4 linked regions of the Homo sapiens genome follow. The gene in region 4 interacts genetically with the main gene of each other region. Each region holds a gene or a part of one and is shown on either strand. Other genes may lie near its edges.

Region 1 (3,500 bases), on a different chromosome or scaffold from region 4:
TTTTAGCTTGATGAAATCCCAGTTGTCTGTTTTTGCTTTAGTTGCCTGTGCTTTTGAGGTCTTACGTAAAAACCCTGTGCCCAAAAAACCTGTGCCCAAGATGAGTGTCCTGGAGCACTTCCCCAGTGTTTTCTTCTAGTAGTTTTATAGGTTTTGGGACTGGATTTCTGTCTACAGTCCTGGAGTTTTGCTGCCCTCACTTTGGTTTTTCACTCACTTCTCTGCATGGCTTTCCAATAGCAATAGCTCCCAGATAGCAAGCATGGGTGGGTGGGGGGAGTATTACATGCGTCACTTCACTTAATCCTCATGGTCTGTCTACTTATTTTCAGATGAGAAAACAGGTTTAGAGAAGTTGTGATCTACCTAAAGTCATGCACAGTTTCACTCAAGTGTCTGACTCCAGATCCGCTTGCCTCTAATCTCTCATAGTAACTTGTTGACACATTTTCTCCAGTTGTCCTGTCTTGCTTAAAAAGCTGTGGGGAAGACTCAGCCTGGCTCAGGTAGTATTAGACCAGCAGTCCCTGGTGTGGCATACTCAGTTTTGGCATTGCCTTCCTGGTATGTTTTAAAGAAAACTCATCAGAACCTTTGTATCTTTTTTATTTTCCTTGAGACAGGGTCTCGCTCTGTCACCCAGGCTGGAGTGCAGGCTCGATCACGGCTCACTGCAGCCTCAACCTCCTGGACTCAAGTGATCCTCCCACCTCAGCTTCCCAAGTAGCTGGGACTACAGGTGCACACCACCATGCCCTGCTAATTTTTTGTATTTTCTGTAGATACTGGATTTCACCATGGTGCCCAGGCTGGTCTTGAATTCCTGGGCTCAAGCAATCTACCTGCGTTGGCCTCCCAAAGTGCTGGGATTACAGACATGAACCACCACACCTGGCAGAACCTTTGTATCTTGAAAGCTGTGTAAATACAATCAGTGTGGGTATCTTAGTCCCTCCTTATCAGCGGTAGTAGTTTCACTTACCAATGGTCAGCTGCGATCTGAAACTATTAAGTGGAAAATTCATAAGAAATAGTCAATTCATGGCTGGGCATGGTGGCTCAGGCCTGTAATCCTAGCAGTTTGGGAGGCTGAGGTGGACCTGAGGATCACCTGAGGTCTGCAGTTTGAGACCAGGCTGGCCAATACGGTGAAAACCCTGTCTCTACTAAAAAAAATATACAAATTAGCCGGGCATGGTGGTGTGCGCCTGTAATCCCAACTACTTGGAAGGCTGAAGCAGGAGAATTGCTTGAACCCAGGAGGTGGAGGTTGCAATGAGCCAAAATTGTGCCACTGCACTCCAGCCTGGGTGACTGAGACTCCGTTTCAAAAAAAAAAAAAAAAAGAAATAATCAGTTCATAAGTCTTAAATTACATGGTTTTGCAGTGCTTGTGTTCATGTCACCCTTATATTTAATAATGGCCCCAAAGCAAAAGATGCTGGCAATTTGGATATTGTAAAGAGAAGCTGTAAAGTGTTTCCTTTTACTGAAAAGGTGAAAGATCTCAATTTAATATGGAAATAAAAAAATTTGTATGCTGAGGCTGCTAACGTCTATGGTAAGAACTAATCTTCTATTTGTGAAATTGTGAAGAAGGAAAAAGAAAGTTGTGCATAATTTATATAGGGTTCTGTACTATGCGAGGTTTCAGGCATCCACTGGGGGGTCTTGGATCTTATCCCCCTCTGATGGTGGGGACTACTATAGTGTTGTTTCCTATGTTCTCCTAGAGTAGTAGCCTGAGTTTGGGGAGGAAGAGAATGCCCTCCTCTCCCTCCCTTTTTTTTGTTAATCCGATTAGGTCAGCAGTGGATGTTACTTTGATTTTACTGGTGGTTCTGTTATCAGAGTCTTGGTTTGTTTTCTGTTCTTTGGAGATAGGGTCTCACTCTGCCACCCAGGCTGGTATGTAAGTGGTATGATCATAGCTCACTGCAGCCTTCAACTCCTGGGCTCAAGTGATCCTCCCACCTCACCTTCCTGAGTAGCTGAGCCCACAGCTGCATGCCATCATGTCTAATTTTCTTATTTTTTGTACGGGGGGCGGGGGGGGTCCCACTATGTTGGCCAGGCTGGTATTGAACTCGTGGCCTCAAGTGGTCCTCTTGCCTTGGCCTCCCAAAGTGCTGGGATTACAGGTATGAGCCACTGCACCCAGCCTGTTATGACAGTCTAACTGTCTATCAGGTTAATTCTAAGACAAGGGTGGAAGCCTCTGTTACGGTCTCCAGTTTATAAAAGAATGGTTCCTGCAAGATTACATCAAGGCCGGAAGGCCATTTAGGATGCTGAAAAGATAAGCCCTATGGTTATTTAGCATCACAAAGGGATAGGTGGAGTTGTTAAGAGCTGTCTTCCTTTGTGTTCTGCCTCATTAAGTCACTGGGTCCTTAGGTGTCAGGGAATATAGATTGAACGAACAGGTGTGTTTCACTTTAGGAGCAAGCCTGGGGGAAAAGGGGTACCAGTGACATTTTATGTAAATGGACCCTTTGGAGTAATGCAGCAGGTTATTGTACAATTTCTTTTTGACTTTTATATCAAGCCACCTGATTTTTTGTCTTCTTTTGCTTTCCAAAGTACACAGATGCTCCTCAACTTTCAATGGCATTATGTCTAAATAAAACCATTCTAAGTTGAAAATATTGTTAAATTGAAATTACATTTAATACACCTAAGATACCAAACGTCATAGTTTAGCCTAGCCTCCTTTAAACATGCTCAGAACACTTATGTCAGGGTACAGTTGGGCAAAATTATCTAACACAAAGATTATTGTTATTATTTTTTGTAGAGGTGGGGTCTCAAACACCTGCCCTCAAGCAATCCTCCTACCTCCACCACCCGAAATATTGGGTTTACAGTTGTGAGTCACTGCACCTGGCCTATTTTATTTTATTTTAAAATTTTATTTATTTAATTAATTAATTTTTTTGAGACAGGGTTTCACTCCTGTCACCCAGGCTGGAGTGCAGTGGCGCGATCTCAGCTCAGTGCAACCTCTGCCTCCTGGGCTCGAGCAATTCTCCTGCTTCAGCCTCCTGAGTAGCTGGAACTACAGGCGCCTGCCACCACACCCGGCTAATTTTTGTATTTTTAGTGGACACGGGGTTTGACTGTGTTGGCCAGGCTGGTCTTGAACTCCTGATCTCAGGTGATCTACCTGCCTTGACCCCCCAGAGTTCTGGGATTATAGGTGTGAGCCACTGCACCTGGCCACCTGGCCTATTTTATAATAAGGTGTTAAATATCTCATGTAATTACTTGAATACTGTACTGAAGGTGAAAACCAGAATGGTTATGTGAGGACTTGGAGAAGTAAGTGTCTACTGATTGCTTTCACAGAAAGTCTAAACATTGTTAAATAGAAGCATTGTTAAATTGAGGACTGTATATATGAGTTTTTTTTTTTGAAACGGAGTCTTGCACTGTTGCCCAGGCTGGAGTGCAGTGGTGCAATCTTGGTTCACTGCAACCTCTGCCTCCCGGGCTCAAGC
Region 2 (7,785 bases), on a different chromosome or scaffold from region 4:
AGAAAAGTCTTCCCTGTCCCTTAGACTTGGTCAAACACTTAGCTATAGTACCCTGACTTTCCCCTTTATAATTATTAATAAACAAAATTATTTCTGTATTTTTTTCTACTGGACATTATAATCTCCATGAGGACAGAGATCATAGCTATCATGTGTTGTTGACTTGTGATAATAACTTTGCAATTACCTTTTCTTCCACAGAAAAACAAACAAACTTGTAGTTTAAGGATATTACCTTTCTTGAGGGGTTTGTTGTACCATCTATCTTTTTTGATGTCTGGAATGGTAATTCTTGCTGATGGATTCTCAACTAAGATTTTATGCAGCAGAGCTAAAAACAAACATTACGACAACATTCACGAAAGAATCATGTTAGAGAAGCCTATGGCTTGAGGTAAGAAACACATTTTCTGTTAGCCTACTTATGTCTAAATATTATTCCTGGGGAAGAGAAAGAATTAAAGCTACTAAATTACTGCTTTAATTTCATGCAGTTTTTCTCTGCTGCTGTATCTTGGAGTAGTCTTCCCTGATCTGATTCTCAATTGTTTGCAACTGAGAACAAGAGCCAGATGGAAATGTTTCTCCTCATGTGACGAGATTAACAAAAAGATACAGAAACCCCTCTTATCCATTTTCAATACCGAATTTCATTACTTCAATGTCATGTTCTCACGTGACCTCCTTATTCACACAGTTTTATAATGAACATTTACTTACCAATAACTTTTTAAGAGACAGTAATCTAACTAACCATCCTAAGGTATCTTAATTTTCTTGAGAAAAAATTCACGTATCTTCCTATGTGAAGATTATTTCCTAATGGACCAAAGATTTAAATGGAAAAATGAAGCCATAAAAACACTAAATGAAAACATAGGGAACTTTTAAATAGTAGAGGTAGAAGACCTTTCCAAAGAAATTATAGTCAGGGACCACAAAGGACAAGATAATAGATTTGAATGTCAATATAGCAAAACAAAATGAAAATAAATGATAAATTGTGAAAAGTATTTGTAACAAGTGCAAAGGTCAATGTGTTATCAAGGAAAAAAAAAAGCTTCAAAGTGGTAAGAAAAACAATATCCTTGACAAAAATGAGCAAAATAGACAAAAAACTAATACATACATAAAGGGTATACAACTTCATTAGTATTAAATTTAAAATAAAAATGAAAAACTATTATTTAAAGTTTTTTTCCTTAATGTAAATTGATGAGACTGTGATGAAATGGTTCGAACTTTCGGGAAGCAATTTGACAAAATAAGCCATAATAATAAAAACTACATCCTTGATCCTGCAATTTTGCTTCTGGGGATTTCAATGAACAATTTAAGGGTATGTGTCATGATTAAGTTACACAGATACTTATATCTCTTTTGTATCTGTGAAAATTTAGAAAAATCTCCAACAAAGTGATTAAAAGAGTAAAGTAAGGCATATCCACATGGCAGAATATTATCACAGCCTTTAAACCAACGATGTAGACCTACAATTATAGTCATGGAAGAATGTTCGCTGCGCACTAAAACCAAAAACAGTTACAAAATATTATTAGTGTGATCTCATTTTGTATAAAAACACATATAAATAATATACATATATTCATTTTACATACTTATGGGCCACATTAATGATGTTTCAGTCAGGAATGGACCACACGTATAACAGACAGTCCCATTAGATTATAATACTGTATTTTTACTATACTTTTTCTATACTTAGATACACAAATACCATTATGTTACAATTCCTTACAGTGCTCAGTATAGTAACATGCTGTACAGGTTTGCAGCCTGAGATCAATAGGGTATACCAAATAGCCTAGATTTATAGTAAGCTATACTATCTAGATTTATGTAAATATACTCTATGATGTTCACACAATGATGAAACCACCTAATGAAACATTTGTTAGAGTGCATCCCTATAATTAAGCAACAAACGAGTGTATTTGCAACAAAGTATAGCACATATGAAAACTTTAAGTAAAAAGCCATCTAAGAGCAGATTCAAGTTGCTCTGAATATACACTCCCCAAAATATTTTTAAAAATCTATTGCAGAGTTCTGGGACTAAAGAGTTATTTTTTCCTTAATTTTTTACTTATAGTTACTATTTTATCTACAACGAACATGAATTATTTGTAAGTTTAAAACAAAAAAAAAAGTAAGAAAAAATTCAAATAGCACAAGACTTCATATCCAAGAAATCGGTACTCTTTCACTCAAGATAATTCAGTTACCTAGAGGAGCAGAATCGATTTTTTTCCAAGGGTTGAGGTATGTTTTTTTTTCTTTCCAGTCAGAATACTCCTGACAGCTGTCACTGGGTTGGTCCCATGGCAATTCTAAAAACAAAGCAAGTCCCAGTTTTTTTAAATGTTCTTATTATAAAGATTTCAAGGAAAAATAATAATATAAATCCATGAAAAGTTTCCTTTGAATTAATTCAATATGGTTTTCACACTAAGAATCCCAACTTGGAAACTTTAGAGGCACTTCAAAGATAGATGAATCAGGATAGGCATGGCAGCTCAGGCCTGTAATCACAGCACTTTGGGAGGCTGAGGCAGAAGGACTGCTTGAGCCCAGGAGTTCAAGACCAGCCTGGGCAACATAGTGAGACCCCATCTCTACAAAAAATAAATAAAATTAGCTGGGCGTGATGGTGTGCATCTGTAGTCCTGGCTCCTCAGGAGGCTAAAGTGAGAGGATCACTTGAACCCAAGAGGTCAAGACTGCAGTGAGCCAAGATCACACTGCTGCACTGCAGCCTGGGCGACAGAGCAAGACTTTGTCTCAAAAAAAAAAAAACCAAAAAACAGATGAATCATTTCTTGCCCTAGTCTTGTTTTCACAAATGTTTACATGATACACAGGAGAGATAAGTGTTGTGATATTTAATAACTATGCATGCCTTAGCTTAAAAAATCTTTGGGATTATAAATAAGTTACTATTTGCAATGTGCTAAATATTTGTATCCCCCTCAAAAGTCATGTTGATATCCTAACTCATAATGCAATGGCATTCGGAGGTGGGGCCTTTGAGACGTAATTAGGTCCTGGTGATGGGACCACTCAAAAAATGGTATTAGTGCTCTTATTAAGAGCTTATTAATGTCTAATAAGGGCTTGTGTGCCCGGACAATATTGTATCTTTATAGGGCACTAATTATATAATCCCAGCACTTTGGGAGGCTTAGGTAGGCAGATTACTTGAGCCCAGGAGTTTAAGACCAGCCTACGTAACATGGAGAGACCGTCTGTGAAAAAAAACCCACAACAAATTAGCCAGGTGTGGTGGTGCACGCCTGTAGACCCAGATACTGAGGAGACTGAGGCAGGAGGATCGCTTGAGCCTGGGAGCTCAAGGCTGCAGTGAGCCTTGAATTGTGCCACTGCACTCCAGCCTGGGCAATAGAGTGAGACCCTGTCTCAAAAAAAACCACAAAAAAACAAAAAACAGACACAATATCTCACAACATCTGGTCATTTAACAAAAAACCCAAAAAACAGCACTTTGGGAGGCTGAGGTTGGGGGATCACTTGAGGTCAGGAGTTTGAGACCAGTCTGGCCAACATGGTGAAACCCTGTCTCTACTCAAAATACAAAAATTAGCCGGGTGTGATGATGCATGCCTGTAATCCCAGCTACTTGGGAGCCTGGGACAGAATTGCTAGAACCTGGGAGGCAGAGGTTGCAGTGAGCTGAGATCACATCACTGTACTCCAGCGTGGGTGACAGAGCAAGACTCTGGTCTAAAAAAAAAAAAAAAAACCACAATAGAGCTTGCTTCTGCTCTCTTGGCTGTCCACCATGAGAGAGCACAGCAAGACAGCCATCTGCAAATCAGGAAGAGGGCCCTCACTAAAACATGACCAGGTTGGCACCCCTAATCTCATATTTTCAGCCTCCAGAACTGTGAGAAATAAATTTGCTGTTTATAAGCTATGCAGTCTATGATACTTTGTTACAGCAGTTACCAAACCGATCAAGACACTATTAAAATACTACTATAAAAGCTGGGTACCATGGCTCATGTCTTTACTTTAATCCTAACAGTTTGGAGACCAAGACAGAAGGCTTGCTTGAGACCAGGTGTTTAAGACCAGCCTGGACAACACAGCAAGATCCCATCTCTACAATGAATTTTTAAAACTTAGCCAGATGTCTTGTGGCAGGCACCACTGGTCCTAGCTACTTGGAAGAGTGAGGCCAGAGGATTGCTTGAGCCTAGAAGTTTGAGGCTGCAGTGAGCTATAACAGCTCACTGTACTCCAGTCTGGCCAAGAGTGAGACCCTGTCTCTTAAAAAAGAAAACAAAAACTATTATATAAACATGAATTCCTTGGTTTATTTCATTTATTTCAGTATAACTAATCTGACTTTTTATAGGAGTTTTACCATGATTAAATAGCTCTTACCTCCAGCGAGCATTGCAGTAAGTACTATTCCACAGGACCAAACATCAACTGGTTCTGCATGAAATTCTCTTCTCTTCAGAAGTTCTGGAGCAACATATGGTAAAGTACCACACATCTTGTTCAACAAACGCTCACGATTATTATACCGAAATACTGTTGCCAAGCCAAAGTCTGAGATTTTGAGGTTATCTAAACCAAAAGAAAAAAAGATGACACTGAATAAAAATGTTTTGCAAATAGATATACTTACAGGAATTAAGTTTTACTGAAAAAAAATCACTGGTGTTACTTAAGGTTTGTAGAACTTCTCTTAAAATAAGCAAAATAGACAAAAAGAAATTTAAAAAAATAAAATAAATCATCATCTATGCTAAAAGTAGAAAAAGGCCTCACCTCTTCTATTAACTTAAAAGAAGTATTATCAACACACAGAACAGTCTGGACCAGATTAAAGAAAGAGGCTGGAGTCAGAAGGGGCTGCCCTTCTGGAAAAGAGCACTCTAAACCTGAGATGAAAGTAAAGCAAGGCCCCTCATCAGGTAGGGTGGAGGGCAGGAAGGAAACATCAGTAGTATGTTAGGCACAACTTTCTCAGCAGCAAACAAACCCAGTTGGCAGAAGAAAATATGTGAAGACACACCAAAATTCAACAAACCACAGTAATTTTTTTCTTCAAAGTAGAGAGTCTGAGAAAAAGAGGACAAACTCTGTACAAAAAAAAAATATCAGAAGACCCAACTTCCACCCTAACTTCCCATCTTCAACACACAAAAACTGCAGGCAGGACTTAACTTATGTTTAGTGAATATCTACTGTAACTTAGTGACAGACACTATGCCAGCCAATGCAGGTAATAGATAAATTAGTGAAGACTGACAATAGAAAACTGTTATGAAGGTTATAAAAATATAGAGCACTATAGGATCTTAGAGCAAAGGAATGTAACCCAGTCTTAAGAGTTAGAAAAGGCCCTCTATTATCAGAGGGCAATTTGGCAAAACATACTAAACTGTGAAACATTCACTCTTTGAACTAGCAATTCCCACTTCTATATCCATAGAAATAATCCCACAAATTCATAAACATAAGAATATTCATAGCAATATTATTTGTAAATAAATGTCCAAATTTGTACAATGGAAAATGTGGAGGTAGGTTTTGAAAACAATCAACAAGGTATATCTATACATACTAACATGAAATAGTGTGTAAGTGGGACAAAAAGGCTAATGGCATAAAAAATATTATAGCATAAAAAATATTATAGCATGACGCAATTTTTATATTGGCCTTTTACACAAATTGATAGAAGCCATCACTGTCCTATTTTATAAGTTAGAAACAACTTAAATGTCTCAAAATAGGGGACTGATTTCTTTAAAAATCAAGTACATTCACACAATATGTAAACCAATGAAATGTTTACCTCTATCTGACTTAGGAGGTAGCTACTGTGATTACCCTTTTTTTTTTTTTTTTTTTTTTTTTTTGAGAAAGTGTCTCACTCTGCTGCCCAGACTAGAGTGTAGTGATGTGATCACAGCTTACTGCAGCCTTGACCTCCTAGGCTGAAGTGATCAATCCTCCTGCTTCAGCCTTCCAAGTAGCTGGGACTCCAGGTGTGCACCACCATGTCTAGCTAATTTTTTTTTTTAATTTTTCATAAAGACAGGGTCTATGTTGTCTAGGCTGGTCTCAAACTCCTAGAATCACTCAATCGTCCCACCTCAGCCTCTGGGATTACAGGCATGAGCTACTGCACCCAGTTGATTATCTTTTCAGTAGTTAAATATGACACTATTGGACAAACCACTGAGATTGAGTTTCAAATTACTTATGAGTAGTAATCACTTAAAATACTAATGGATAACTATAGTATTCCTTGGACTTTGTTATGTCTGCAACATAATACTCAGCTATGTTAGAGAACTGCACATAATAAAATTTAAATGTAGGAATGTGTTTAGCTCTTAGAAAAACAAAGGAAGAATATATTTGTGATGAAATAAACAGGAGGACATTAAATACTGGTAACATTTTATTTCTTTTTTTAAAAGACTCCTAAATATTAAATAGAAACAAAGAATTATATCTTGTATATTAATACAAGATATAAAGAATAACAATGTAATAAACACCCACTCACTTTAGAAAAACAATGCTCTATTTCCTTTGAAATCTTTAAATACTTCCTTAAATACATTCCCTCCCCTACTTTCTTAGACCATTCTGAATTTGGTTTTATTATACCCTTGCTTTTCTGCATGTTTTTTTCTCCATGTTTACATACTTGAACAATATACTAGGTTTTACATATTTTTGAACTTTGTATAAACAGAATCAGACCATATGAATTCTTTTGCAACTGTCTCTTTTTGCTCTACATCATTATATACCTGAAATTCATCCATGTCACTGCTTGTGACATGCTTGTGTCACTGCTTGTGACATGGCTTGAAAAGCCATGCATTTCATAATTTATTGTTGACAGACATTTGGGTTAGTTTCCTGCTATATTAAAAACATCACCACTGTGAGCATTCTTATATACGAATAATGTTGTATTTTTAAACCAGGTGGGTTGATATACATATATTTACATTTCATTATAATACATAAGAATTTTTGTGTACCTGAATTTTTAAAGTTTTAAATAAAAATAAAGATTTTTATGTCATATAAACTCAGTTTAAAGGGGTAAAAAGTAAAATCCATATGCACATAAGAAAAAAGCATGTATAGGCTGGGTACAGCGGCTCACACCTATAATCCCAGCACTCTGGGAGGCCAAGGGAGGCAGATCACTTGAGGCCAGGAGCTCGAGACCAGCCTGGCCAATATGACAAAACCCCATCTCTACTAAAAATATAAAAATGAGCCAGGTGTGGTGACTCAGGCTTGTAATCCCAGCTACTCAGGGGCCTAAGGCACAAGAATCACCTGAACCAGAGAGGTAGAGGTTACAGTGAGCCGAGATCATGTCACTACACTCCAGCCTGGGCAACACAGCAAGACTCTGTTTCAAAAAAAAAAAAAAGCTGACCATTTGTTAAGCACTATTCTAATACTAAGAATAAAGCATTAAACCAGACAAAAACTACTGCCTCATACAGCTGACATTTCTTTTTTGATTCTGACCCTGTAAGCTTAAAGCTTTCGCTATCCATCCTTCTCAATTTGATGACATTCAGAAAATATAACTAAATTTCTTACATTTTTATCCACGTCATACATAAAAAAAGAGTGAACAGGACAAGACTAAGGTCCAGGGTATTCCACAGGAACTTCCCTTTATTAATCCATTAAAGGATTATTTTAAACTATTCTTGGCCAGGCATGGTGGCTCACGTCTATAAT
Region 3 (7,785 bases), on a different chromosome or scaffold from region 4:
GTGGCGTGATCTCGGCTCGCTGCAGCCTCCACCTCCCAGCCGCCTGCCTTGGCCTCCCAAAGTGCCGAGATTGCAGCCTCTGCCTGGCTGCCACCCCGTCTGGAAAGTGAGGAGCGTCTCTGCCCGGCCGCCATCCCATCTAGGAAGTGAGGAGCGCCTCTTCCCGGCCGCCATCCCATCTAGGAAGTGAGGAGTGTCTCTGCCCGGCCGCCCATAGTCTGAGATGTGGGGAGCGCCTCTGCCCCGCTGCCCCGTCTGGGATGTGAGGAGCGTCTCTGCCTGGCCACGACCCCGTCTGGGAGGTGAGGAGCGTCTCTGCCTGGCCGCCCCATCTGAGAAGTGAGGAGACCCTCCGCCCAGCAGCCGCCCTGTCTGAGAAGTGAGAAGCCCCTACGCCCGGCAGCCACCCCATCTGGGAAGTGAGGAGCGTCTCCGCCCGGCAGCCACCCCGTCCGGGAGGGAGGTGGGAGGGTCAGCCCCCCCGCCCGGCCAGCCGCCCCGTCCGGGGAGGTGAGGGGCGCCTCTGCCCGGCCGCCCCTACTGGGAAGTGAGGAGCCCCTCTGCCCGGCCAGCGGCCCCATCCGGGAGGGAGGTGGGGGGGGTCAGCCCCCCGCCCGGCCAGCTGCCCCGTCCGGGAGGGAGGTGGGGGGGGTCAGACCCCCGCCCGGCCAGCCACCCCGTCCGGGAGGGAGGTGGGGGAGTCAGCCCCCCGCCTGGCCAGCCACCCCGTCCGGGAGGTGAGGGGCACCTCTGCCCGGCCGCCCCTACTGGGAAGTGAGGAGCCCCTCTGCCCAGTCAGCTGCCCCGTCCGGGAAGGAGGTGGGGGGGTCAGCCCCCCGCCCAGCCAGCCACCCCGTCCAGGAGGGAGGTGGGGGGGGGGGTCAGCCCCCAGCCCGGCCAGTCGCCCCGTCCGGGAGGGAGGTGGGGGGATCAGTCCCCCGCCCGGCCAGCCGCCCCGTCCAGGAGGTGAGGGGCACCTCTGTCCGGCCGCCCCTACTGGGAAGTGAGGAGCCCCTCTGCCTGGCCACCACCCCGTCTGGGAGGTGTACCCAACAGCTCATTGAGAATGGGCCATGATGACAATGGCGGTTTTGTGGAATAGAAAGGGGGGAAAGGTGGGGAAAAGACTGAGAAATGGGATGGTTGCCGTGTCTGTGTAGAAAGAGGTAGACATGGGAGACTTTTCATTTTGTTCTGTACTAAGAAAAATTCTTATCCTGTTGATCTGTGACCCTACCCCCAACCCTGTGCTCTCTGAAACATGTGCTGTGTCCACTCGGGGTTAAATGGATTAAGGGCGGTGCAAGATGTGCTTTGTTAAACAGATGCTTGAGGGCAGCATGCTCATTAAGAGTCATCACCACTCCCTAATCTCAAGTAATCAGGGACACAAACACTGCGGAAGGCCGCAGGGTCCTCTGCCTAGGAAAACCAGAGACCTTTGTTCACTTGTTTATCTGCTGACCTTCCCTCCACTATTGTCCTATGACCCTGCCAAATCCCCCTCTGCGAGAAACACCCAAGAATGATCAATAAAAATAAATAAATAAATAAAAGGGGAAAAAAAAAAAACAATGAATCTCTCATTTCTAGTTGTAAGTAGGTTAGAAATGAGTCAGCGCTCCTCATGTCATAAAGTATAAGTTGTTTTGTTTTGTTTTGTTTTTTGGAGACGGAATCGCCCAGGCAGTGGCATGATATCGGTTCACTACAACCTCCACCTCCCGAGTTCAAGCGATTCTCCTGACTCAGCATCCCAAGTAGCTGGGACTACAGGCACACACCACCACACCAGGCTGAATTTTTGTATTTTAGTAGAGATGGGGTTTCACTGTGTTGCCCAGGCTGGTTGCGAACTCCTGAGCTCAGGCAATCCACCCACCACCCCACCTCGGCCTCCCAAAGTACTAGGATTATAGGCGTGAGCCACCACGCCTGGCATAAGTTGTTAATACATCCATTTTGCTTGAGTCTTACTCTGGCTGAAGAGTTGTGTTGTTTTGTTTTTGTTTTTGTTTTGTGACATTCAATCAAAACCTTTTTCTAACTGCTTTAGCAGAGACTAAAGATTGGAAAAATAGAATAATTTTCTGTTTTTCCAAGTGAGGGTAGTCTTTCCAAACTGTAAGTTAGCCCTTAGACTAGAAGGATAGAAGAAGCTTATTCTGCTGCTGTTCAAATATATCTTTCCAGAAAAGCAGCCTTAGTGAATTCTAACACTGTATATAATCATTGTTTAAATGATCCTTTTTAATTGAAAACAATTTTTTCACTACCACTCTCCATACTGTTTAATGTGATTTTTAATCTAATGTGTGTAGAACTAATTCTTTGTTATTGTTTTAGTTGGAGACGTTGATTTGATGAATCTATAAATCAATGTACATCAAAGTCATAATAGGACTAAAACACTATAAGAAATATAACTGAATTTCCCAGAACTTAAGATCATTTACAAAAATGTGATTACCACAGAACATGCGATGCATACATTTAAACATTAAAAATCATTTTTGACTAATAAAGTAGGCAATTTCCTGAATACTTGTCCCTCCTAGCAACAATTCCACATTATTTATAACTCTAAGTGTAGACTCTTTTTTAAAAAACATGCACTATCAGGTAGGAGAGTTAAACATCAACCCACTACTTTTATGGCAATTTGGCTTGAATTGATTCAGATTAATTTAATCACTTACCTAGCAAGGTCCTTAGGCAGTGGTCCTCAAATTTTAGACAGCAAAGAAGCACCCACAGTGCAAATTCAAATGTGGAATCCTAGGCCTTGGCCAGAAAAATAACCTGATTCTGAAGACCCAAAATAATTACTTTTAATTAGCACCTGGGATACTTTCAAAGGGAATCATGCTAAAAGATTAGCATGATCCCTAGACAAAAGATGAATCACTTTGACAGGGCTGGTAAAAGACCTGGATTTCAAGACATTTGGCAGCCTGGGTGGGACACAGAAGGCATGGCCCTGGGCAATCCAATAAAATAGCACAGAGACACATCAGAAGAGAAGTCGTATCAGTCCTAACAACAGATGACCAGCAGGCTCAATTCTCCCTCCTTGCCTTCCCATTGGAATACATATTCCAAATCAAAGTTTAAATGAGAGGCAACACTGTACCTGGCTGGAAATGAGGAATCTCTGTTGGTAGCTGAGGCTTGCTCTGACCTCTCTATCACTAGGTCAGGGGAAAGAGGGTCATTTCACTCTCTCCCATTCCCTTCAGAGAAACAGATCCTGAGTTGCCCCTCCCCTCCTGGTTTCTAGCTCCACTGGTAATTCTCTTTCAAGGCAGTTCTCTCCCAGTAGTGCAGTGTGCATGGCCAGATGTGGAAGGTAAAGCCCTGAGGTGCACTGAGTACTGTGCAGCGAGCGACAGGTAGCTGCAGGAACAGAATGAGCTCTCAGCATAGTACAGTCTCACCACTAACACCCCAAAAAACTAAAAAAAAAAAAACTATAAATTATTTCAAATCACACAAAAACACTCCCCTCATTATAGTTACAGGACCGAAAGATTCAACACTAGGAAAGGAAGACCTCTCCTAAGTATAGAAAATGATCTATCCTTCATAAATTTCGTTGTACCCATTCATCTGCTTTCCAAGCTAACATAAAGAGGAAGATTCCTCCAGCTTCCAAGTGTAGTGAGAGAGACGAAGGAACACTTGGTCACTCTGACCAGTCAACATGCCCCTCTTTTGTCAAGGTAAGTAAACCAAAAACATTAATAACAACACAAGACCTTTAAGAAGCTCTTGCATAAGAAAAGAGGGGAACTACCATAAACAGGAAGAGGGAAAGCTTGCTCCTGTAATGGACTTACACTAGGAATATGGAAATCAAACCGAGGAATTATCTACTCTATGTTCCCAATTTTAAAAAGAAAAAGAGAAAGGGAAAGACCTCTAAAAGCAAGAGATGAGGAAGGAAAAACAGCTGAGATGAAAAAGGAAACTGGATAAGAAAAAACTGGAAGGAAATTCAAACACGTAACAGTAGAGATAAAAATTCTACATTCAAGGCAACAGAGAGATGTATAGAAGCTGGAAAAAAATCACATTCGTGTTTCAGTGTATAAGCACATAAGATCCTCTCCAAACACACAAAAGAAAAAAGACCATGATGAAAATAATGCATATTGTTTGATGGAAGGACAAAGAACACAGGTCCAACCTACAAATAACTGGAATTTCTGAACTACAATCATAAGCAAATGTACAACTGAAAAACTGTTCTAAGATGGAAAAAAAAAAAGATTTAAAATATTTACCTATAAATTGAAAGAATTCACCATGTTTCTAAAAAAAACAAAGCTGCTGGAAAGAAACTTATGCCTAAACATAGCCTACAGGAATATCTTAATTTAAAGACTAGAAAGAAAAAAAGATGCAGGCAAAAAAAAAAAAAAAAAGGTTTACCTACAATTAGCAAAAATCAGGGTAGCCTCTGCCATCTTCACCCACTGCAACAAATGCCAGATGATAGAGCAATGTCTGCAATGTCTGGGGATTTGATTTACACTTCGTATCTTAGCATCTATAACAGATAGGCAAACAGTAAACATTTTTTTTTTGAGACGGAGTGTCGCTCTGTTGCCCAGGCTGGAGTGCAGCGGTGCTATCTCGGCTCACTGCAAGCTCCGCCTCCCGAGTTCACGCCATTCTCCTGCCTCAGCCTCCCGAGTAGCTAGGACTACAGGGGCCCGCCACCACGCCCAGCTAATTTTTTGTATTTTTTAGTAGAGACAGGGTTTCACCGTGTTAGCCAGGATGGTCTCGATCTCCTGACCTCGTGATCCGTCCATCTCGGCCTCTGGAAGTGCTGGGATTACAGGTGTGAGCCACCGTGCCCAGCCAGTAAACATTTTTTTTTAAGTTGTAAATGAATAAAAGAAAAATTCAGACCAGGCACCGTGGCTCACGCCTGTAATCCCAGCACTTTGGGAAGCTGAGACAGGAGAATCACCTGAGGTCAGGAGTTCAAGACCAGCCTGGCAAACATGGCAAAATCCCTTCTCTACTAAAAATACAAAAATTAGCCAGGTGCAGTGATGTGCACCTGTAGTCCCAGCTACTCCAGAGGCTGAGGCAGGAGAATCACTTAAACCCAGGAGGCGAAAGTTGCAGTGAGCTAAGATTGTGCCACTGCACTCCAGCCTGGGCGACAAAGCGAGACTCCATCTTAAAAAAAAAAAGAAAAATTCAAAAATTTGAATGGACTTATTCTATACACCTCTTCTCATTTATAGTACCTTTCTTCAACTTTCAGGCCTGTTCACTTCTTGGACCTTTCTTACACAAACTGATGTACACTTTGCAAGGCCGAGGTAGGAGGATCACTTGAGGCTAGGAATTCAAGGTTGCAGTGAGCTATGACCGTGACACTGCCCTTTAGCCTGGGAGACAGCAAGATCCTGTCTCTAAAACAAACAAACAACAACAAAAAAAACCACAGATCTATATGACATCCAATCTTTCTGATACCAGTATCATTACTTTTATCAAAAGATAATTTTTTAATAAAACTCTGCAAGCACATAAGAAAAAATGTTCCACCACTGATGACAATTTGAGCTGATCCACAGCTCAAACTCTCTTGCTGCCTTTGAACAGTGGGTAGTAGGACTAGTACAACAAACTCTAGTCAGCACATATGCCAAGTATCCAGAATTAGGAAATAAGGAGATAATGGGGTATCCTTGGCCAAAAGTATCCAAAAAATAAGAAGAGACAGAAAGGAGCAGTGGCTCATGCCTGTAATCCCAGCATTTTGGGAGGCCAAGGTGGATGGATCACCTGAGGTCAGGAGTTTGAGACCAGCCTGACCAACATGGTGAAACCCCATCTCTACTAAAAATACTAAAATTAGCTGGGCGTGGTGGCGGGCACATGTAATCCCAGCTACTTGGGAGGCTGAGGCAGGAGAATTGCATGAACCTGGGAGGCAGAGGTTGCAATGAGCTGAGATCATGCCATTGCACTCCAGCTTGGGCGACAGAGCAAGACTCCGCCTCAAAAAAAAAGACCAACACAATATCAGAAGCTACAGAATCAGTGCCAGTCTGAATACAGATTACAGAGCAAAGTGTCTTTAAAATATACTACCAAGTGCCATATTTTTATTTTGGAAAATAAAAAAAGGAAATGGTTGGACATTTTTGTAATGAAAGGCACATTCCCTTTAAATTTTTCTTCTTGCAAAAGTCTTTGTTCAGAGATGAGACTAATGTGCCTTCTATTTCCACAAGTTTTTCATTCATTCACTCAGTACCTACAATACCCTAGTGCTTGCTGTGAGTGTCCTCCTAGAAAAGAATGTCAAACTTCCTGGCAAAACTGGGGAAGACTCCAAAACTTGGAGTTCTGAACACATGAATTCAATTCTTGAAGAAATGAATTTTGAAATTTGAGTAAGGGCCAACCAGGTGGAGACAAAGTCACTCCAAAAAGATTGAGGAGCTCCTGCAAAGACAGGGTCTGAAAAGAATGCAAGGTTTAAAAATAAAACAAATGTCAGTGGATGGAGCATAGCTCGGGTGGAGAAGAGTATGGGCAAATAAGGTCTAATGGTTCCCAACTTTATGGGGAACCCGCTCTTCAAGGGGCTGCTTGGAAATAAATGGGATCATATTGGATTGTTAAAAAGAAGTTAGAGTTTGCCATTGCCATTTAGTGCTGAGGGACCAGGTAAAATAAACATCCTACAATGTACAGGACAATCCCACACAGTGAAGAGTTGTCTGTAAAAATGCCAGTAGAGCTCCCTTTGAGAAATACTGGGAAGTAGGTAAGGAATTAACAAAGTCTAGAGAATTTAACTCTAGGGCCTCAGCGTATCCTTTAAAATCTGTGATCACAATCTCCATTTCACTCACTAAATATTTACTAGGTGCTAAAAGATAAACCAAGGCACATTAAAATTTTAAAGGATTTATTTGAGGTCAGGCAAAGTAATCCTAGCACTTCGGGAGGACAAGGCAGGTGGATTGCCTGAGCTCAGGAATTCAAGACCAGCCTGGGCAAATGGTGAGATCCCGCCTCTACAAAAAAATACAAAAATTAGCCTGGCATAGTGGTGCATGCCTGTAGTCCCAGCTACTTGGGAGGCTGAGGTGGGAGGATAGCTGGAGCCCAGGAAATTGAGGCTGCAGTGAGCCATAACTGCACTACTGCCCTCCAGCCTGGGCGACACAACAAGATACTGTCTCAAAAAACAAAAACAAGAAAATGTTTATTTAAGCAGACAATGGTTAACCCATTTATGCTGGAGGTTGCAAATTTTTTTTGTGAAAAATCAGACCTTGGCGATGACCATGAGCAGGATATAAATAACTCCCACAAGCTTAGCGTTCCAATAATGGAACACTAGGCATATTAATGAATTGGTCAGCTCCAGAATGCAAGCAATATGGGGCTGCACCAAAAGGACACAGTTAGAAGGCTTTTGAAGAGTGAACGGCAGAAGCAAGGCCAAGAAAATCTGTGATTGGTCAAAGTGGAGTAGCCTTACTTGGATCATTCCAGTAAAAGTCAGTGGTTAGAGGTTAGTTGATGGTTTCTGATTGGTTAAGCTAAAGTTTCATTTTCCTAGAATACAACCATTTACACTGAGTTTGGTGTAAGTCTGTTTATGTAGGAACCCAGGGCACTGGAGCTTCCTCAGGCAATGGCCTCCCAATTAATTATTTTAACACAGGAAGCTGTTTTTGCTGGGCAATAAATATGTTTCCTTCTTTCCTTTGACCACCATGAAGCTTGGAACTTTGTGGC
Region 4 (3,058 bases):
TTTGAACAGTGGTTTTTGTGCATTGTTTTCTCCCTTGATTCTTGTCAACAAACGCTGAGCCTTGAAGACTTAGATTAGTAACGTTGGCCTAAACACCATTCCTGTGCTTCTTCTCCATAAATTGAAGGATTCCAAGTGCACCATTTCCTTGGTCGTTACCTTTCATCCTCCCTCCCCAGTACTTCTTATAGTTCCTGACAGCAGGCACAAATCACGACTCCAGGCCAACCAGCAATTTTCCCACCATGCTGAGCTGAGGCAGCATGGCTGGTCTAAAGAAGGGACCCAGTTTTCCAACTGCAGCACCATATGGGACACCACTCTGCAGGGAGGCACTGCCTAGAGAAAGCAGGGCACACGCCAAAGCCAAGTACAGCAGCAGCCGGTGTCACCCAGGACAATGACAACTCCCCAAACCAAGCCTGTACTGCCCCATTTACATTCTGACACTTAAACTGTTCCTGTTCAGGCTGCACAATGCAAACAAAATGGACAAAAGATTAAGGTTTTTTGGCTGTAAGTTTATTCAATGCAAAAGAATCCTCTCCAATTTTACTGAGGTGGCTGACCACGTCCACGACCAAATCCGCCTCTCTGTAAGAGAAAGCACATCACATCAGCATGAGCGGCACTCTGGTTTGATCTTTGGAGGTTTTGCTAACTTTCAGGCCTCATTATAACTCCAGAGGCCCCCAAATGTAAACAGCTGGGAGAGAGCTGAGTACAGGCTATAAATCCCAGCACTGCCCCTTACTGGATGTGGGGCCATATCTAACATCTAGGCCCATTTCTTCATTGGTAAAGTGGGAGTATGGCCACCCACCCAGAGTGTGTTCATACATACTCCTATGAAAGCATCCAGCACCAGGATTGGACCGTTTCTACTGTACATGCTTCCTTTTTACAAATGACATTATCTGAGAGCAATCGTGTGCTATGAGGACCTGCCATAGGACAAAAATGATATGCCAGTACTATGCCTGGATTAACTAATCTCACAACTACCTTAGTAGCTGTAATTATCACCTTATTTTATAGATGGAGAAACTGAGGCAGAGGGGAACCTACCTAACATTACATCAACTGAAAAAAGATGGAGGATTTGATTTCATACCATCTTGGTTCTTAAGCCCACCCACCTTCCAGTGTTTAGTTCAATGTCAAGCATTAATGAAACAGAAAATACTAGTAGGCCACATGTACTGATTTCTGAGACTCATTTCAGTAATTTATGTATTTACAAAAGTTTGCATGCTACAACTCAATGTAAAATTTGGAATTTGGAAAAAAGTGGGAGGAGGGAACTGGTTGACAGGACCCACCCATACTATATGACATCCCCACAACTTGCAGAGCAACCAGACTGAGGCCAGAACAAGTGATGGCTCATGGAAAACAAATAGGAAGATACTCACAAACTGGAATTCGGTTGCTGACCCAGCCCCAGCCTCGGCTTTCTTGTCGGCACCAGCTAGAAAGTGAAACATCGATTTAGAATCATCATATGATCTAATCTACTATAGAACAAGGGAAGACAACTCACTGACTCCAATCTTGCAGGAAAAGCCAAGTACCACTCCGTTAAATATAAGCAAATTACACCAGTGGTGGGGAATACCTTCTGAGCCACCTTTGTCTCTCCTGGGGCACCCTTCTCAGCCTTCCTTATGTCACCCTTCAATACTCACAGCCCAAACTATAAATCCTCCCAAAGGATTCCTACTTCCTATCACACTGACTGACTTACCCACTTCACAGCAGCATCTAGATAACAAAGGGAGTGTAATTATGGAAGAACTAACATGTAAAGGGAAGGGCCCACAAAAGCCTTAATTACCACCATGGGAGAAAAGCAGACAAGATGCTGCCCGGTCCTATATCCCAGTCACAGTTCAAATGGAGACGTGTGCAAAATTCACCAGTTTTCTTTTACTTATTTGAGACAGGGTCTTACTCTGTCACCCAGGATGGAGTGCAGTGGTACGATCTCAGCTCACTACAACCTCTGCCTCATGGGCTCAAGCGATCCTCCCACCTCAGGTGGGACTACAGGCAGCTAATTTTTATATTTTTTGTTCGTTTGAGACTGAATTTCGCTCTTGTTGCCCAGGCTAGAGTGCAATGGCGCGATCTCGGCTCACTGCAACCTCCGCCTCCCAGGTTCAAGCGATTCTCCTGCCTCAGCCTCCCGAGTAGCTGGGATTACAGGCATGCGCCACCATGCATGGCTAATTTTTTTGTATTTTTAGTAGAGATGGGGTTTCTTCATGTTGGTTTCTCCAGGCTGGTCTCAAACTCCCAACCTCAAGTGATCCGCCCACCTCGGCCTCCTGAAGTGTTGGGATTACAGGCATGAGCCACCGCACCCAGCCCTAATTTTTATATTTTTTGTAGAGATGGGGTTCTGCCATGTTGCCCGGGCTGGTCTAGAACTCCTGAGCTCAAGTGATCTGCCTGCCTCAGCCTCCCTAAGTGCTGGAATTACGGGTGTGAGCCACTGCACCCAGCCAATTACAAAGACTTAAGAAAAAAAGAATGTAAAATATTTCACTACTCTTTATACTGATTACATGTTAAATTAACACGTTTAGATATTTTTTAAACCGATTTATTTGTATTTATTTACTTATTTTTTTTTTTTGAGACGAAGTCTCACTCTTGTCCCTGAGGCTGGAGTGCAATGATGCAATCTCAGCTCACTGCAACCTTCACCTCCTGGGTTCAAGCGATTCTCCTGCCTCATGCTCCGAGTAGCTGGGACTACATGTGCATACCACCACGCTTGGCTAATTTTTTGTATTTTAAGTAGAGACGGGGTTTCACCATGTTGTCCAGGCTGGTCTCAAACTCCTGACCTCAGGTGATCTGCCCGCCTCGGCCTCCCAAAGTGCTGGGATTACAGGAGTGGGCCACCGCGCCCGGCCCTGATTTATTTGAGTTGGTGCGGGGGGCAGGGTCTCACTCTGTTGCCCAGGCTGGAATGTAGCAACAAGATCATAGCTCACTGTATCTCAAACTCCTGGGCTCAAAACAATCCTCTTGCCTTGGCCTTCCAAGT

What was found.
Region 1: changes in RPS10 (region 4) and CHEK2 are lethal when combined (synthetic lethality), as found in Homo sapiens cells (one large-scale study listed by BioGRID).
Region 2: changes in RPS10 (region 4) and CHEK1 are lethal when combined (synthetic lethality), as found in Homo sapiens cells (one large-scale study listed by BioGRID).
Region 3: of RPS10 (region 4) and ATG10, changing one suppresses a phenotype caused by changing the other (phenotypic suppression), as found in Homo sapiens cells (one large-scale study listed by BioGRID).

The regions. Positions count from the first base shown.
Region 1 is NC_000022.11:28,735,321-28,738,820, reverse strand, and holds part of CHEK2 (serine/threonine-protein kinase Chk2), read left to right. Parts: exon of another isoform or gene 1-1,537; coding exon of another isoform or gene 1,538-1,561; intron 1,562-3,500. UniProt on the Homo sapiens protein: Serine/threonine-protein kinase which is required for checkpoint-mediated cell cycle arrest, activation of DNA repair and apoptosis in response to the presence of DNA double-strand breaks.
Region 2 is NC_000011.10:125,629,995-125,637,779, reverse strand, and holds part of CHEK1 (serine/threonine-protein kinase Chk1), read right to left. Parts: intron 4,618-7,785; coding exon 4,429-4,617; intron 2,352-4,428; coding exon 2,247-2,351; intron 332-2,246; coding exon 236-331; intron 1-235. UniProt on the Homo sapiens protein: Serine/threonine-protein kinase which is required for checkpoint-mediated cell cycle arrest and activation of DNA repair in response to the presence of DNA damage or unreplicated DNA.
Region 3 is NC_000005.10:81,976,332-81,984,116, reverse strand, and holds part of ATG10 (ubiquitin-like-conjugating enzyme ATG10), read right to left. Parts: intron 5,789-7,785; exon of another isoform or gene 5,268-5,788; intron 4,618-5,267; exon of another isoform or gene 4,439-4,617; intron 3,210-4,438; exon of another isoform or gene 2,700-3,209; intron 1-2,699. UniProt on the Homo sapiens protein: E2-like enzyme involved in autophagy. Acts as an E2-like enzyme that catalyzes the conjugation of ATG12 to ATG5. ATG12 conjugation to ATG5 is required for autophagy. Likely serves as an ATG5-recognition molecule. Not involved in ATG12 conjugation to ATG3.
Region 4 is NC_000006.12:34,416,954-34,420,011, forward strand, and holds the end of RPS10 (small ribosomal subunit protein eS10), read right to left. Parts: intron 1,472-3,058; coding exon 1,416-1,471; intron 595-1,415; coding exon 553-594; 3' UTR 501-552; downstream 1-500. Other genes in the region: RPS10-NUDT3 protein, read right to left, coding at 1,416-1,471. UniProt on the Homo sapiens protein: Component of the 40S ribosomal subunit. The ribosome is a large ribonucleoprotein complex responsible for the synthesis of proteins in the cell.